2 separate regions of the Homo sapiens genome follow, and region 1 is linked to region 2. A link means that fine-mapping ties the variant in region 2 to the expression of a gene that starts in the linked region. Tissue or cell type: whole blood. Region 2 holds a variant in brackets; the other region holds the start of a gene. All regions are shown on one strand. Distances are from middle to middle.

Region 1 (8,105 bases), 48 kb before region 2:
ATCACAAGGTCAGGAGATCGAGACCATCCTGACTAACACAGTGAAACCCCGTCTCTACTAAAAATACAAAAAATTAGCCGGGCGTGGTGGTGGGCGCCTGTAGTCCCAGCTACTCGGGAGGCTGAGGCAGGAGAATGGCATGAACCCGGGAGGCGGAGCTTGCAGTGAGCCGAGATGGCACCACTGCACTCCAGTCTGGGCGACAGAGCGAGACTCCGTCTCAAAAAAAATAAAAAATAAATAAATAAATTTAAAGAAAAAAGAGATGGTCCTTCCAATTCAGAGACAAGTCTCCTGAAGCCCAGAGATAAGAGATTCAAGGTGGTCAGAGACCTACAGGTAAGGAATGAAAATTCTTGTTATAAAAGTTGCACATTCAAAGCAACTCCACGGGAACTGTTTTCTACCCTGGAAAAAGACAGGGATGGTAAGACATCTTCTAAGGTCATGGGACCATTGGCTCTGACTGCAGAAAAACTGCTCTCCCTGGACCTTTACTGGGGTCACTGGGAAATCAGGAGTGGCCTCAGTTGATTCCTTAAAGCTTTGCTCAGTTGTCTAGGCTCATATTTTTTCACCGGCTTTTGGAGATTATCCAACCTCACTTAAATATAGTCAGCATTTCTTTTCTCTTAACACAAGGCCCTGGATTTTGAGACTTGAAATAATATTAAAAAATTATTTGATATTTTGTATTTTTCATAACACCTTTGACTTTATTAATTCTTTTCATTTTGTATTGTTGCCAAAAGATAGATAGGGAAAATGTTATTAGGCTTCTTTCACTGATAGCAAACTAAACCTCCAAAGGGTTGTGAGAAGACTGCAGATTGGAAGAAGTAGGAATACACGTGGATTTTCTGAATTTGAGTCAATTTATCTCTCTGAAACATCATCTCGCCTCCCTCCCCTCATAGCACTCATTCTAGTATTTTTTGAGCGCTTGCTTTGTACCAATAATGTGCTGAGTTCTGTGGATTCAATGTTGACTAAGACAGACATGATCTTTGAACAAGAAACTTGCAGAAGAGATGAACAGACAAACAAGAAGCCAGGGAATTAATTAAATTGTGATAGGTGACAGTACCTTGAGGAAGGCAGAGTTGTCTGTAATCCAAACAAGCTGCTGGCTTAACTGGTCTATGGGTCTGGTCCAGTGTGGCCAATCTTAGGTCCTAGAGATGAAGCATGATGCTCTGTATCTCAGGTGATGAATACAGGAGGAGGGTAGGAGATTTTTACAAGAAATGTTTTGTGACCCAGCTTTCTAGACTCGACTCAGGCAAGGGAGAGCCTGAGGGATGCAGAGTTTCACATAAGACACCTCTCGGGAACCCAGACACTAAGGAAGGGCAGCGCCCCTTCACTAGACAAGGAAGAAAAGGAGCCACACTGAGAACCTACCGGTGGTGTTGGGGGTAGACACACCCAGCCATTGCATTACCATACCCAACTGCTGAATCAGGGAGCTAATTATGGCTTTGTGCTGCTGGAGACCACATTCCTGAGGCTTTCATGCACACATACGGAACCATAATACATACACACATGCTGTGCTGTCCATCACTGGTCTCCTTCTCCACTCTGCCTTCTCATTTCCAGCCCCACTCTCTATGCATTCTGTCTCTAAAGTATCCCTTCCACAGGGTGTTTCTGTTGTTCCATAGGGTATCCCATTTCCACCGCTCATACACAAACCAACACACTGCTCATACCCTTTGCCTGACTCAGTCATTCCAGGAAGGCTGCACATCATACCCAGCTTTCACCTAGAATGTCACTGACAAAGGTGTCAGTGCTGAAGGAGGGTCCTTAAGGAGTATCTTCTCATCCAAACCATCCACTTTCCAGATGAGGAAACTGAGGCCTCATCAGGGACTCCAAACCATCCACTTTCCAGATAGGAAACTGAGGTCTCATCAGGGACTCCAAACCATCCACTTTCCAGATGAGGAAACTGAGGCCTCATTAGGGACATGGCTTGTCCAAGAGCATATAGTCAGCAGTAGGGCCAGAACAAAAAGTGGGCTTCCAGAGTCCTTTGTCTCTTCCATGGAATCTCACCTCCGACGATGTGAAAATGAGTTTGAAGTCTGGAGCCCACCTCATACCTTAATCTACCTTCCAGGAGTCTGCTCTTTCCTTAAAGCGCTGGAATGTTTGATCGATATTAACTCATTCAGCTAAAATTCTTGAGATACTCTCACCAGCAAGCAAGAATACATGTTCTCTGTCAATAAATGCAACACAAAGAAGCATGGCGCTTTAGAAAAAGAAGACATTATTTTGCCCTGGACGATAAGAGAAGGTGTGAGTAAGGGTTCCATATTTTGTCTCAGATTTTGAGAGGTAGAGTTAGAAGAGCAGGAGAAAAGCTTTTCAGACTGAGGGGCAGGTTTATACAAAGGTGGGGAAAAGGAGGTGATGTTCAGGAAAAGGCTGAGTAGCCTTTGGGGTTGACACTTAGAAATTGTCGTATTGCTTGTAATTACTGCCACGTGTATGTACTTACCGCAAGGCAGTGGGTTTCATTTAATCATCAGAACAAACCTATACATGAGAAATTCATTCATTTAACAAATACATATTGAGTGCCTACTATGTTGCCTGGCAAGTTCTAGGTGTCGGGGATACATCTATGAATAAAACAGACCAAGTCCCTCAGCCACCAATAAAAGAGAACAAGTTCCTGCCTTCAGGGAATTTACACTGGGACTTGTTACCTCATTTCACAAATAAAAAAAGAAAGAAAGAAAAAGAAAAACTGAGAAAGAGGGAGGGGAAGGTAATGGCTCAAATAACAAGCAGCGAAGCCTGTCTGTGTTCTTAAACCCTCGCGGTGCCATCTTTCAGGAAGCCTAGATTCGAAGGTCAGAGTCTTCAGGGTCAACAACCGAAGGCAGTGAGATTCCCCTACAGGGTTTTGAGCAGGGGTGTGGCAGAAACCATATGGCTTGTTTTCCTTTGAGCTGTCCCCCCTGCCACCACAATTCTATTTAATTTTTTTGTATTTATTTATTTATTTATTTATTTTGAGACACGGTGTCACTCTGTCACCCAGGCTGGAGTGCAGTGGCACTATCTTGGCTCACTGCAACCTCTGCCTTCCAGGCTCAAGCAATTCCCAAGCCTCAGCCTCCCAAGTAGCTGGGATTACAGGCTCCTGCCACCACACCCAGCTAATTTTTGTATTTTTTTTTTTTTTTTTTTTTAGTAGAGACGGGGTTTCACCATGTTGGCCAGGCTGGTCTTCAACTCCTGACCTCAAGTGATCCACCAACCTCGGCCTCCCAAAGTGCTGAGATTACAGGCATGAGCCACCGCGTCCGGCCCCCATGCTATTTATAATCAGATCGGCTATGTCAATCCTAATCCATTACATCTATCCCCCACCCCCCAACACACACACACACACACACACACACACACACACACACACACAGGCTTCTTTCAAGATGAGGCTAACACTCCTTGGGCAGAGCTGCCATCTTCCCGCCAAGCCTGGTTTTAGAGGATTAGCCTCAGTGCACCCTCAAGCCCCCAAGCCTCATGCTGCACCTAGCACTCCGGTTAACTGACCCTTTGTCCTACAAAACCTTGTAAGCTTGAATCCTCTCCTGGCTCAGTTGCTAGAAGTTAAAAGTGAGGGTGGTTGAGAAAATGATAGTATTATAAGGGGACTGGGTGAGACTAATAGCTATAAACTTGAAACAGGCCTCTGCTGTCACCTGAAACTCAGCTCCCTCAGAGCTGGAAAAGTTTGCTTTTGACATGTTTTGGGAGTGGGAGTCCCGGTGCTCTGGACTCTAGCCTGTAATCCTGGTGTGGTTCGCAATGCCCCTCACTTGGGTGCTAGTCCAGTCCTTGAACAAAACACACGCCCTTTAGTGCGAGTCGGGAGCGGGAGAGACGGTATTAAGAAAAATAAACTGGCGATTAAGAGGAAGGGGTAATGAAGAAAGGGGAACATACACAGAACGGGAGAAGGAATGGATTTTAAACAAAACTGGAGTAAGAATTTCAGGTAATGAAAGGGAAAAAAGGATGCGACAAGAGCAAGACAGGAACAATCGGAGAAAGGGGGCCAGGCAAGAAAGGAAGACTGAGGGGGCAGGGTCGCCCAATGGGGCTGATGGAAGTGAGAGCAGAGAGACGGGACCCGGGACCCCGCGCAGGCCGCGGGCGCGAAGGAGCCGCGAGGTCGCGAGCAGCCCCAGCTGTCAGCCCGGAACAAAGGCCGCCGAGCGGCACAGACCAGGCTGCCGGCAGCTCGCTGCCAATCAGCGGCGCCGGCTCTGGCCCCGCCCCGGGCCGGCCCCGCCCCGCCCCGCCCCGCCCCGCCCCGCCCCGGCTCCGGGACCCGCGCAGAGGCCGGCGCGCCTGGAGCTGGCGGGTTGGCAGCGGCCGGGCGGGGAGGCCGAAAGTTTCTCTGCCCGCCTCGGCCAGTGAGTGGGAGCCGGGAGCTGCATCCCGCGCAGTGGGACCGGCCCGGCCCGCTCAGCAGCTCTGGAAAAAGAGAGACGGGAACACACCGGGAAACACTGGGAAAAAAAAAAAGTCTCAAGTGCGCCCGAGGCGCAGGGGGCAGGTAAGGTGCGGTGGCCGGGGATCTCCTCGCCCCTGGAGGGTCTGCTGCCCTGGCTGCGGGAAACCGCTTTCCCCTCGCCGGGCCGGACCGTCCGTGCGTCCGCGCGTCCGTCGGTCTTTGTCTGTCTGTGTCCGTGGCTGTCGAGGTGTCTTTGTCTCCGCGTGGAGCTGTCAGGGTCTCCCCTCTGCAGGGTGGGCGCCGCTTCTCCGGCCCGGCCCAGAGGAGGTGACTGTGCGTCTGTCCTCCTGTCTTTGTCTTCGTGTCTCCTGCAGACGGGGTTCGTCTATTCCCAGCACCGATGCTGATCCTGGCGGGGACGTCAGTGTTAGGTGACACTGGTGTCGGAGGTGAAGAAGTGGGAGGTGGGGACGCGAGGCCGCAGGAGCAGGGGCCGCAGGAAGAGGGTCCGGCGGTCGGTCCGGGCCGCTGAACTTCGCCGCCTGGAACTTTGCAGATGAGCTGTGTCCACACCGGTGGGGAGGACACCGGTGCGTTGCAGCCAGAGATTTGAAAGGTTTCCCTCAAGGAATAAGTCACACGGGCGGAGGTGGTTAGAGAGGAAGGTGGTAAATCGAAGTGTCTAAGTGGCTCCCTGGGGCTGCAGCTTCCTGGGGTCGGTCCTGGATGTGCAATTCAGGAATTTAGTCAAAGCACCATGCACACACAGACAGCCCCACACTACCTTCACTTCTTCCACCGCCACCCTAGGCAGCCAGACCTCACCCCTCCACCCTGCCACAGGCTTTGCTCTGGCTGGAGGGGCTTCAGAGGTCGCAGCTTGGCAGCAACAGGCATCCCCGAGACACCAAGGGCCAGGTGATGTCTCTTTTTCGTGCTCCAAGTGGAAAGGTTTGAACTGTGGAGCAAATGAGCCTTGTGCTCGCCCACGAGTATGTCAGGCCTGGGAAAGTGCTCCAGACTTGTTAGCTTCGCAGTCTTCAATTTCCCAGGAATAAGAAGTGCTTAGGGATCTGGCCTCCTAAAGTGTTTCCTGTCTCACTTATTCCCTCCACACCGTCCCGCTGCCATCAGCCCCTCTACTCTCTGGTCCCGGGCGCTGGGAAAGTACTGAGGAGGCACTGAGTTCTGGACCATGCCGGGCAGGCGCTGCTCCTAATAAGGATCCCACACTCTGCTGGAAGTGCAGCCTAATAGGAATGCTGGGAGCCCAGGAGCCCAGCCACAAAGAGATGAGCTATCTGCTTGGCAGTTCCTGCACCAAGACCCTGAGAAGAGTCTGCGGGTACCGGCAAGAGGGTGTTTGCAACCTGAGCTTTCTCTAAGTTCAAAAACAATTTTCTGCAGGCATCCAGAGGGAGAATGGAGGTGCCCGAAGAGTGTGCGCATATGGGTATTAGAGATAGCATGTACAGACGGGAAAGGTGTTTGTGTTTAAGAGTGGAGTGGAACATAGTCTGTGGGTAGAAGTCTGTGGGCAGAGAGCATGCAGGCTAATCAGGCGTGGCGTTACACCTTGTATTTATCCAGCGCTTTTCTTTGGAGGCTCTTTCTGCTCATCATAGACGTTATCTCATACGTTATCTCCTTTATCCTCACAACATAACTACCAGGTTGGTGCGGTGGGCTCTCTGTGCCTGCCAGTGAAGAAACGGAGGCGTCAGAAGGGAAAGGCTTTCCCTAAGGTCCCACAGCTAATAGGATGGAGCAACTGGGAGTCCTAGTAAGAGGTCTCAGCTGGGTGGATGTGAGTGTGGGGCGCTCACTCTGCTTAAGAAGAGAAGAAAACTAGTAGAAAAAGAACGGGCATCTCTGTGGGTGTCTATATGCAAGCAAAAGGGAGGGCGGGACATTTGATGTGCTGAAGATGGTTGTTAGTTAACATTTATAGCAGCGGCTGTGTGCTTCACGAGGTAAACCTGTCTCAGCAGTTCAGCTTGTGCATTTGTGTATCTGCAGGAGGTGCCCCCAGCTGTGTGTGCCTGGGTCGATGTGGGGCAGGGGTGCTGTCATAGAAGGAGTGCTGCTGCGTGGGGTGCCCTGGGGAAAGCCAATGCTTTGGGAGTGTGTGAGGGAAAGATGTGCCTTTCAGTTTTGAGAAGCCGTGGGTCAGCGTGTATAGCAAAGCTATACATGGGCTCCAGACGTATATAAATGGCTTTCTAATCCTGAAAACTTATTTATATGCCTTTGCGCTTATTCAACGTTCATTTCATAAATATTCATTGGGCGCCTACCAAATGCAAGGCTCTGAGCTGTGCAGCGAGGCTAGGAAGATGAATAATGTAATGATGACAGACCTATGGGTAAGCACCTTATAGACCAGTGTAATGGATAATACCGTAACACTTAATGCCAGCCACTAAATCCACTGTGTGCCTGGAACTTTTTATTCATTATCTCATTTAATTTTCACTGCAGCCCTGCGGGGTATGTATAATTATTAGATGAGGAGAGTTAAGTAATTTAGCCAGGCTACAAAACCGAGGGGCAGGGATTTGAGATCAGCTTAGTAAGGTTCTGGACCCTGGCTCTGTCCATGTTATTCTGCTACCTTTGAACATAGAAACACTGTTTCTTCTGCATGGAATATTCCTGCCTGGTCTCTCTACCTTCTCCACTTAACTGGCTCCCACTTTTTTTTTTTTTTTTTTTTTTTTTGAGACGGAGTCTTGCTCTGTCGCCCAGGCTGGAGTGCAGTGGTGCGATCTTGGCTCACCGCAACCTCCACCTCCTGGGTTCAAGCAGTTCTCCTGCCTCACCCTCACAAGTAGCTGGGACTATAGGCGCCTGCCACCACGCCTGGCTAATCTTTTATATTTTTAGTAGAGATGGGGTTTTGTCATGCTGGTCAGGCTGGTCTTGAACTCCTGACCTCAAGTGATCTGCTGGCCTCAGCCTCCCAAAGTGTTGGGATTACAGGCAGGAGCCACCACACCCAGCCCCACTGTGGGTTTTAACCATAGGGATCAACTCCTCCAAGAAAGTTTCCTCTGTTTTTTCCTCAATTCTGAGTCAGGTACCTTCCTCAGAGTCCCTACCATCATACCAGTATATTATGGCATTTACTCACTGGCTCCTGAGGAGTCTACAAAACTCCTAGAAGCAGAGATTGCATCATGAGTTCCCAGCTCAAAATACAGTGTTGGCGGCGGGGCGCTGTGGCTCACGCTTGTAATCTCAGCACTTTGGGAGGCTGAGGCAGGTGGATCACGAGGTCAGGAGATCGAGACCATCCTGGCTAACACGGTGAAACACCGTCTCTACTAAAAATACAAAAAATTAGCCGGGCGTCGTGGCGGGCACCTGTAGTCCCAGCTACTTGGGAGGCTGAGGCAGGAGAATGGCGTGAACCCGGGAGGGGGAGCTTGCAGTGAGCCGAGATCACATCACTGCACTCCAGTCTGGGCAACAGAGAGAGACTCCGTCTCAAAAAAGAAAAAAAAAATACAGTGTTGGCTTTCAGTAGATACTATGAGTATGCCCTTAGTAAATGCTTGTTTAATAAGGTAAGGGGAAAGATGAGAGCTCTCAGAGACCTTTGGCAGGGAGCACTGTT
Region 2 (8,105 bases):
GGGAGGCCAAGGTGGGAGGATAGCTTGAGGTCAGGAGTTTAAGACCAGCATGGGCAACACAGCGAGACCCCTGTCTCTACAAAAGAATTATTTAATTAGCCAGGAGTAATGGTATGTGCCGTCATCCCATCTACTCTGGGGCTAAGGTGGGAAGATCACTTGAGCCCAGCAGCTGGAGGCTGCAGTGAGCTGTGATCACTGTTACCTACTGCAGTCCAGCTTGGATGACAGAATGAGACTCTGTTTCTAAAATTTAAAAATAAATAAAAAATAATAAGATTAGTACAGGTGAGAGCAAGCCTTACACAGGGAATAAACAGGTTGGTAGAAAGTAATCGGGGAGGGATGCAAGGGTTTCAAGATTAACTGGAGAAAGCCACCTTGCAGACATGAGACTCAAGTTGAGAACTAGAAAATGAGAAAGGCTGATGTATGTGAAGAGCCCAAGGAGGAGAATTCCAGGCAGGGGAAGCAGCAGCAAGTGCAGAGTCTCCTGGATGGGTCAAGACTTCGTATGTTCACCCACCAGGAAAGAGATGAGTGTGTCTGTCCCTGGGACATGGCGGGACAAGGTGAGGAGTCCGCATTGTACTCTAACACAGTGGGAAGACTGGAAGGGTTCCCATTAGGAAGTGCTATGACCTGGACGCTTCAGATGTGTCTGATGAACAGACTGGGGAAAGACATTGGGAGGCTCCTTCAAGGCCCAGGTGAGAGGAGATGGAGGTGAGAGGAGATGGATGAGAACCATAAACAGATTCATTTAGCACCGATGCACTGATACTGTCAATAGCCTCCAGCGGTGTCATAGGCTTGAAGGCAACACATATCGTGCACACATCTGTAGATCGCCTACTACATGCCAGGCCTTGTATTTTCCTTCTGTTTGTTTCGGCTCCCTAATGTTCCTATTTAATATTAATATTTTCAGTTTGTAAATGAAGAAACCTCAGAGAGATTGATTTTCAAATCAAACTCCTGCCGATGCCACAGCTGATGGTCTGGTCTGTACAGCCCTGCAGGTACAGCTGCTCGGCAATGTGTATTGCATGGCAAAAAAAGGAGGAGCTGAGCATATTGCGCAGAGCACGGGAGGGTCTTTTGGCCCAAAATGACACCCCTGCATGTGGACCAGAGTAGTATTTTCGCCCCATAGGAACTAGAGGTGTTAGCTAAGCTAGGGATGGATGACCTAGGGGGATGAAAACACATTTTGTCAGTGTCAAGTTTATATCAGCAGAGCCACCCTGTGCTCCTAAGTCACACCTCGCAGGAATGGGAGGCAGAAAGGTTGCATTTAGAAGGAAAGGATTAGCTCTGGAAAGTGAGTTTGGACATTGAGGCTCCCCAGATCCATAGGGATGATGGATGTTGGCAAGGACAATGGTCACAATATAAGTAACAGATACCGATAACACTGCCTAGCATTTATTGAGTGCCCACTATGTACTAAGTATTGAGTAAATGTTCCAGAGCTGTTATCTTATGGTGGTATTTCTTAAATTTCTCATAACGATCCTATGAGGTAGGCTGCTTCACTGTATTTCCTCGAGTATACAAAGCCATCAATTCAATAAAAGCTTTTCACATCAAAACATATTAAACTTACACAACGAAGTTTTGTTGTGTCATGCTTTTCCTAACAAAATATAGAACATATTCATAACATAACCTCTTTATTCTTCAGGATGATAACGCAAGTTTGAATCGAAGCCTAGATATTCAGAGTCACAGAGTCTCCATGCACAACTGCTAATTGTAAAAAATATATATATAATAAAATTAAAATTAAAAAACAGAGTCAGAAAGTTTCTGGCTCCCTTTCAGCTGTGCCCATGCAGTTCTCCATGTCCCACCTGGGATTTCTTTAGCCCCTTTAGGATGGATGGTATAATTTAGAGCTCAGCGAAGAACAGAGGCTCCTTCCACATCTCCTGTTTTATTAAACTTGTGGCTTTCCCCTTCTTAATTGGATATCTGTCTTTTGACTAAGAAATACTTCACAGTGCATGACAATCACCAACCTTTCCTAGCTTTGAAAATTGTGTGATCTAAACTTAGAGATTTGCCTGAATCTGCACATGTGCTGGCACTGACATCCCAATTTCTCCTGTCTGGTGACTGACAAGGTTGTTATTGTTTAAGCATTGATTATTAGATGCTATCCTATTACTTTAAAAAAAAAATGTGCCCAGTCCGGTGGCTCACGCCTATAATCCCGGCACTTTGGGAGGCCTAGGCAGGTGGATCACCTGAGGTCAGGAGTTCGAGACCAGCCTGGCCAACATGGGAAAACCCCATCTCTACTAAAAATACAAAGATTAGCCAGCCAGTCATGGTGGTGCTCACCTGTAATCCCAGCTATGTGGGAGACTGAGGTGGGAGAATCATTTGAACCCGCGAGGTGGAGGTTGCAGTGAGCCAAGATCATGCCACTGCACTCCAGCCTGGGCAACAGAGTGAGACTCTATCTCAAAAAAAAAAAAAAAAAAAGTTTAAGGGTGTCTTAGAATTAGTTTGTAACACTGAAGGTTAAAGATATTAAACAGTTTACCTTCCATGTCATAGCTGGCAGGTGATGTAACTAGAATGCACACCAAGTCGGCTGGGTACTTCTCAACATTAAGGCTGTAATGACTTTCTCCTTCTTTCTCTCTTGAATCTTCTCAATGAGGCCTTCCTTCCACCATTCCTCCAAAACTGCTCTTGTCAAGGTTACCAAAGATCTCCACATGGCCAAATGCATTGACTAATTCTCAATTGTTATCTTACTTTCAGCAGCACTTGACAACTTTTTTTTTTGAGACAGGAACTCAGTCTGTTGCCCAGGCTGGAGTGCAGTGGCGTGATCTCAGCTCACTGCAACCTCCGCCTCCTGGGTTCAAGCTATTCTCATGCCTCAGCTTCCTCAGTAGCTGGGACTACAGGTGCGTGCCACCATGCCCAATTTGCCTGGCTAATTTTTTATATTTTTAGTAGAGACGGGGTTCCACCATGTTAGCCAGGCTGGTTTCAAACCCTTGACCTCAAGTGATCTGCCCACCTTGGCCTCCCAAAGTGCTGGGATTACAGGCTTGAGCCATTGCGCCTGGCCATTTGACACCATTTTTAGGAAACAATTTCTTGACTTGGCTTTCTTAGGTCTTCTATATC[G/C]ACATCACCCTGAAAACCTTCTCTGCTGCTCTTTTTCACTTCTCCTAACCTGCCTGACCTCCAGATGCCGAGTGCTCCATGTTAACCATCCTCAGGCCTCTCTTGTCTTTCTGCATCCGCTCTTTGGTGACCCCATCTAGTCTCATAGCCACTTCCACACTCCCAGCTCTGACAAGTGCATCTGCAGCTCCCAGCAGCTGCCCACTCACCCTCCTGCCTACTCTCCATCACTCCCTGGATGCCAAATAGGCTTTGCAAACTGAATGTCTTCAACCAAACTCCTCTCTTTGGCATTGTCCCTGACTCCTCTCTTTCGCTCACTCCCTACATCTGATCCTTTAGCAAGTCCTGTCAGCTCAACCTCAAAATTACATTGAAAACTGTTTTTTAGAGACAGGGTCTCACTGTGTTGCCCAGGCTGGTCTTGAACTCCTGGCCTCAAGTGATCCTCCTGCCTTGGCCTCCCAAAATGCTGGGATTACAGACGTGAGCCACCACCACATCTAAATCCACAACTACCACCCTAGACTATTAGCCTGTAATTGGCCACCACTTCTATCCCCCGTCTCCTCAATAAGCTTCTTCCCCACCCGGAAGCCAGAGTGACCTTCCCCAACCTAAGGCAGATCAAGGTGTCAGCTGCTTAAAGCCATCCAGGGGCTCCTTGTCTCAACCCAAGCAAAGCCAGAGCTCTTTGAGCTGCACAGCCTCCTTGTTCTCTGATGTCTGCTGGCTCCTGGTTTCTGTTTCTCCTTCCCAGCCTTGCTAATTGTTCTCCAGCCAGGCTGCTTCCCATGTGGGTCTCACACAGCCAAGCCCCCTCTGCCTCAGGGACTCAGGCTTTTATACTTGGGGTTTCTTCTGGTACCCCTCTCCCCCTAGATTTTCATATGACTTGCACCTCATTTTCTTTTCTTCTTCTTCTTTTTTTTTTTTTTTTTTTTTTTTGAGTCAGGCCCAGGCTGGAGTGCAGTGGCACAATTGTGGCTCACTGCAGCCTTGATCCCCGGGGCTCAGACGATTCTCCCACCTCACCCTCCCAAGTAGCTGGGATTACAGGTGTGCACCACTACGCCCGGCTAATTTTTGTATTTTTAGTAGAAATGGGGTTTCTCTAAGTTGCACAGGCTGGTCTCGAACTCCTGGACTCAAGCAATCTGCCCACCTCAGCCTCCCAGAGTGCTGGGATTACAGGTGTGAACCATCATGCCTGGCTGCCCCCTCATTTTCTTGAAGCCTTTTAAAATGCTACCCTAACAAAAGAAGACCTTCCTGCATAAAACAGCCACCTCCCAGAATTCTGTTCTGTCCTCTCTGCTCCAGTTTCCCCCGCAGCACTGGTACCCGCAGCACTGGTACCCGCAGCACTGGTACCACTTGCTATAGTATACATTGGTTTGCTTCTGGCCTCTCCACACCACTGTAACCCTAAGTTCCAGGAATGCAGGGACTGTGACTGTTTTAGTCACTTGCTGGGTCCCGAGTGTTTAGAGTAGAGGCTTGCATGAAGTGGGCTCCCAGTGAATGTTTGTTGAATTATCAGACAAAGGAAGAAGGAACGGAGCACCCGGTGGTGGAGACAGTGCTGGGCTCTGACATGTGTTTCTCTACTGCCCAGATCTGGAAGTCGGAATCAGCACTGTGCTGTGACCACTCCCACCCACGCTGACTTCTGTCTTGTGTCTTCTTCCAGGTCTACGGCTCTCGCAGGCTCTGTGAGGGCTTTGCTATGACCTCAGTCCCCTCACGGAGCCACGACTGCCCCTTGCTGCCACAGCCTTTCCAAGACCCTGCCCGGCCCTGCCCCATCCTCAGCCCCGAGTCACCATGGGCAGCGTCAGTAGCCTCATCTCCGGCCACAGCTTCCACAGCAAGCACTGCCGGGCTTCGCAGTACAAGCTGCGCAAGTCCTCCCACCTCAAGAAGCTCAACCGGTATTCCGACGGGCTGCTGAGGTTTGGCTTCTCCCAGGACTCCGGTCACGGCAAGTCCAGCTCCAAAATGGGCAAGAGCGAAGACTTCTTCTACATCAAGGTCAGCCAGAAAGCCCGGGGCTCCCATCACCCAGATTACACGGCACTGTCCAGCGGGGATTTAGGGGGCCAGGCTGGGGTGGACTTTGACCCGTCCACACCCCCCAAGCTCATGCCCTTCTCCAATCAGCTAGAAATGGTAAGCGGGGGTCGCTGGCAAGGGTAAGTGGGTTGGAAACGCAGGAGAAAGCAAAATGGGGGTGGAGAGCCTGGGGGTTCAGGGGGAGTGGTGACCTGAGCATTCAGACTCCTCAAAACCAGAGCGGCAGGGGTGCCGGCGGAAGCCTGTGGCCACACCGCAGAGATCAAACGTTTCACAAAGGAATTAGAGCATCGCTCAGTCCCCCTGAAGCAGAAGTCTTGGGTCAGGCCATAAGCAAAGAGCACAGGGGATATGTGAGCTTTCTGGAGTCCCACTGAAATGTAGCTGGATTGTCAACGTAGGATCCAGGCGTTTGCCAAGCCTCGGGAAGGAGAGGGAGCCCTGTTCTCATCTGGAAGCACAGATGAAGAGGATGCAGGCCGGGAGTTAACCGCTTCTCTCCCCGGGAGACTCGTGGGGGTGGGTGCGGTCTTCTCATTTGCTGCCCTGGTGTGCATTAGCTCCTTGTTCAAGCTGCGCCTGGGGGCATCTTTGAATACAGGCTGGAGTTTTGTCATCCATTTACCAGAGATTAGGGCAAAGGAGGCCCAGGCACTGAGAAATCCAGCCCTCACACCAGCTCAAGCCCTCGTGCGTCCCACGAGTGGACACTGAAATCAATTTTCCTATTCAGTCCTCTGCCCCTTGCCCTGGGGAAATGAATCCCCGGCTTTGATTTACTAGGAAAGAGCCTCTTATGTTTGCATAGAGCATTCAGCTTTTCAAATTAAGGGGCTTGTAAACTGTGAAGCACTCTACCAGGGAAAATTACAGTTTTAAAAAAGGATCGTGATTTGGAGTGAGCCTCCCAACCCTGTAAGGAGGCCAGGTCCGTGTCCTTGCTCCAGGCTTAATGGAAGAGGCAGTGAACAGGAAGAAGGGATGGACCTAAAGAGGGACAGCAAGCTCGGCCAGCCTGATGCCCTAACTTGCCCCACACAGAGACCTAGAGCAGGAGCCTCAAGATGGTATTTATCACCTCGGGAGGGCTGGGGCAAGCTGGTGGCAGGTTGCTATTTCATAGAACAAAGTGCCCAAGTCGCCATTAGGGTTTTTCCTTCCTAAGAGAGATGACATTCAGCTGCTTCAAAGCAACAGGCAAGGTCTGCTGAGACAATTGACCAAGAGGGGTGCTGCGTGCGCTCAGAGAGCCCAGACTGGCTCAAGGTCGGCACGCGTGCCTGGGGAGGGAGGGTGCAATGCGCGCGCAGGGGAGGCATGAGTCACCGCGGTCCTTTTCCTCTACAGGGCTCCGAGAAGGGTGCAGTGAGGCCCACAGCCTTCAAGCCTGTGCTGCCACGGTCAGGAGCCATCCTGCACTCCTCCCCGGAGAGTGCCAGCCACCAGCTGCACCCCGCCCCTCCAGACAAGCCCAAGGAGCAGGAGCTGAAGCCTGGCCTGTGCTCTGGGGCGCTGTCAGACTCCGGCCGGAACTCCATGTCCAGCCTGCCCACACACAGCACCAGCAGCAGCTACCAGCTGGACCCGCTGGTCACACCCGTGGGACCCACAAGCCGTTTTGGGGGCTCCGCCCACAACATCACCCAGGGCATCGTCCTCCAGGACAGCAACATGATGAGCCTGAAGGCTCTGTCCTTCTCCGACGGAGGTAGCAAGCTGGGCCACTCGAACAAGGCAGACAAGGGCCCCTCGTGTGTCCGCTCCCCCATCTCCACGGACGAGTGCAGCATCCAGGAGCTGGAGCAGAAGCTGTTGGAGAGGGAGGGCGCCCTCCAGAAGCTGCAGCGCAGCTTTGAGGAGAAGGAGCTTGCCTCCAGCCTGGCCTACGAGGAGCGGCCGCGGCGCTGCAGGGACGAGCTGGAGGGCCCGGAGCCCAAAGGCGGCAACAAGCTCAAGCAGGCCTCGCAGAAGAGCCAGCGCGCGCAGCAGGTCCTGCACCTGCAGGTACTGCAGCTTCAGCAGGAGAAGCGGCAGCTCCGGCAGGAGCTCGAGAGCCTCATGAAGGAGCAGGACCTGCTGGAGACCAAGCTCAGGTCCTACGAGAGGGAGAAGACCAGCTTCGGCCCCGCGCTGGAGGAGACCCAGTGGGAGGTGAGGCCACACAGGGCTCATGGGTTTGGGTGGTCAGCGGTTTGGCGCCAGTACCCCCCTCTCCTTCTGGTGCCGGCCAATAGCGTGCAAACACAGACCGCGCAGGCAAGCGGGGCTAATGTGCTGGCTTTATCACCCAAAGAAGGGGCTCCCTGCAAACCATGTTGGGGGATCGACTTACATCTGAGCTTCCTCCTGTCCCCACCATCACCCTCATGGCTCCTAGATTTCAGTTTCCCAAGTGAGCCATTAAATCATGAAGCCGGAAGCCAGATGACCAAGGCCCAGCCAGGCTGTGGGCTGACCTCCCTTCCATCAGCTCCCAGGAGGCTCAGAAGAAGAACAAGCCGTGCCTGAGTTCAGGCGGGGCCAGGGGCCCAAGAGAGCACAGAATGCATTTGTTGCTTTGGAGGGAGGGACTGCACCCACTAGTAAGAGGGACCCTATTGGTGGCAGGTTTCAGTGATGGAAGTGGCCACTCCTTGCTGAAGTGTAAGTGGAACTTCTATTTGGTGAGCTGAGATGGAAACCTAGGAGAGGAAGTAAAGAGTCCCCCACTCACACACTTACACACTCACACACACTCACTCACCCGGTCACACGTGGAAATGAGGCATCTGTACCTGACCGTGCTGGAGAACCCCATAACCTCTGCATCTATTAGTGGGAAAGCAGCTTTTCTCACCAGCCTGGTGGTCTGGATGACTCATGGAGTTCAAGCCCAT

What was found. PIP is the estimated chance that this variant, and not a neighbour inherited with it, causes the effect.
Region 1: it holds the start of LZTS1, and the variant in region 2 is fine-mapped to the expression of LZTS1 in whole blood (INTERVAL, PIP above 0.99).

The regions. Positions count from the first base shown.
Region 1 is chr8:20,300,223-20,308,327 of GRCh38, reverse strand. It overlaps LZTS1 (leucine zipper tumor suppressor 1), which reads left to right and starts at 4,365. Exons shown (of 4, transcript NM_021020.5): 1 at 4,365-4,588. RefSeq lists a silencer at 4,306-4,375.
Region 2 is chr8:20,252,057-20,260,161 of GRCh38, reverse strand. LZTS1 (leucine zipper tumor suppressor 1) reads left to right here. Exons shown (of 4, transcript NM_021020.5): 2 at 4,847-5,325; 3 at 6,577-7,380. The coding sequence starts at 4,981. Among named protein-coding and RNA genes, the nearest start is that of LZTS1-AS1, 20 kb to the left of the region's middle. RefSeq lists a silencer at 4,647-4,830. The variant G/C (reference allele first, on the strand shown) is at 3,154.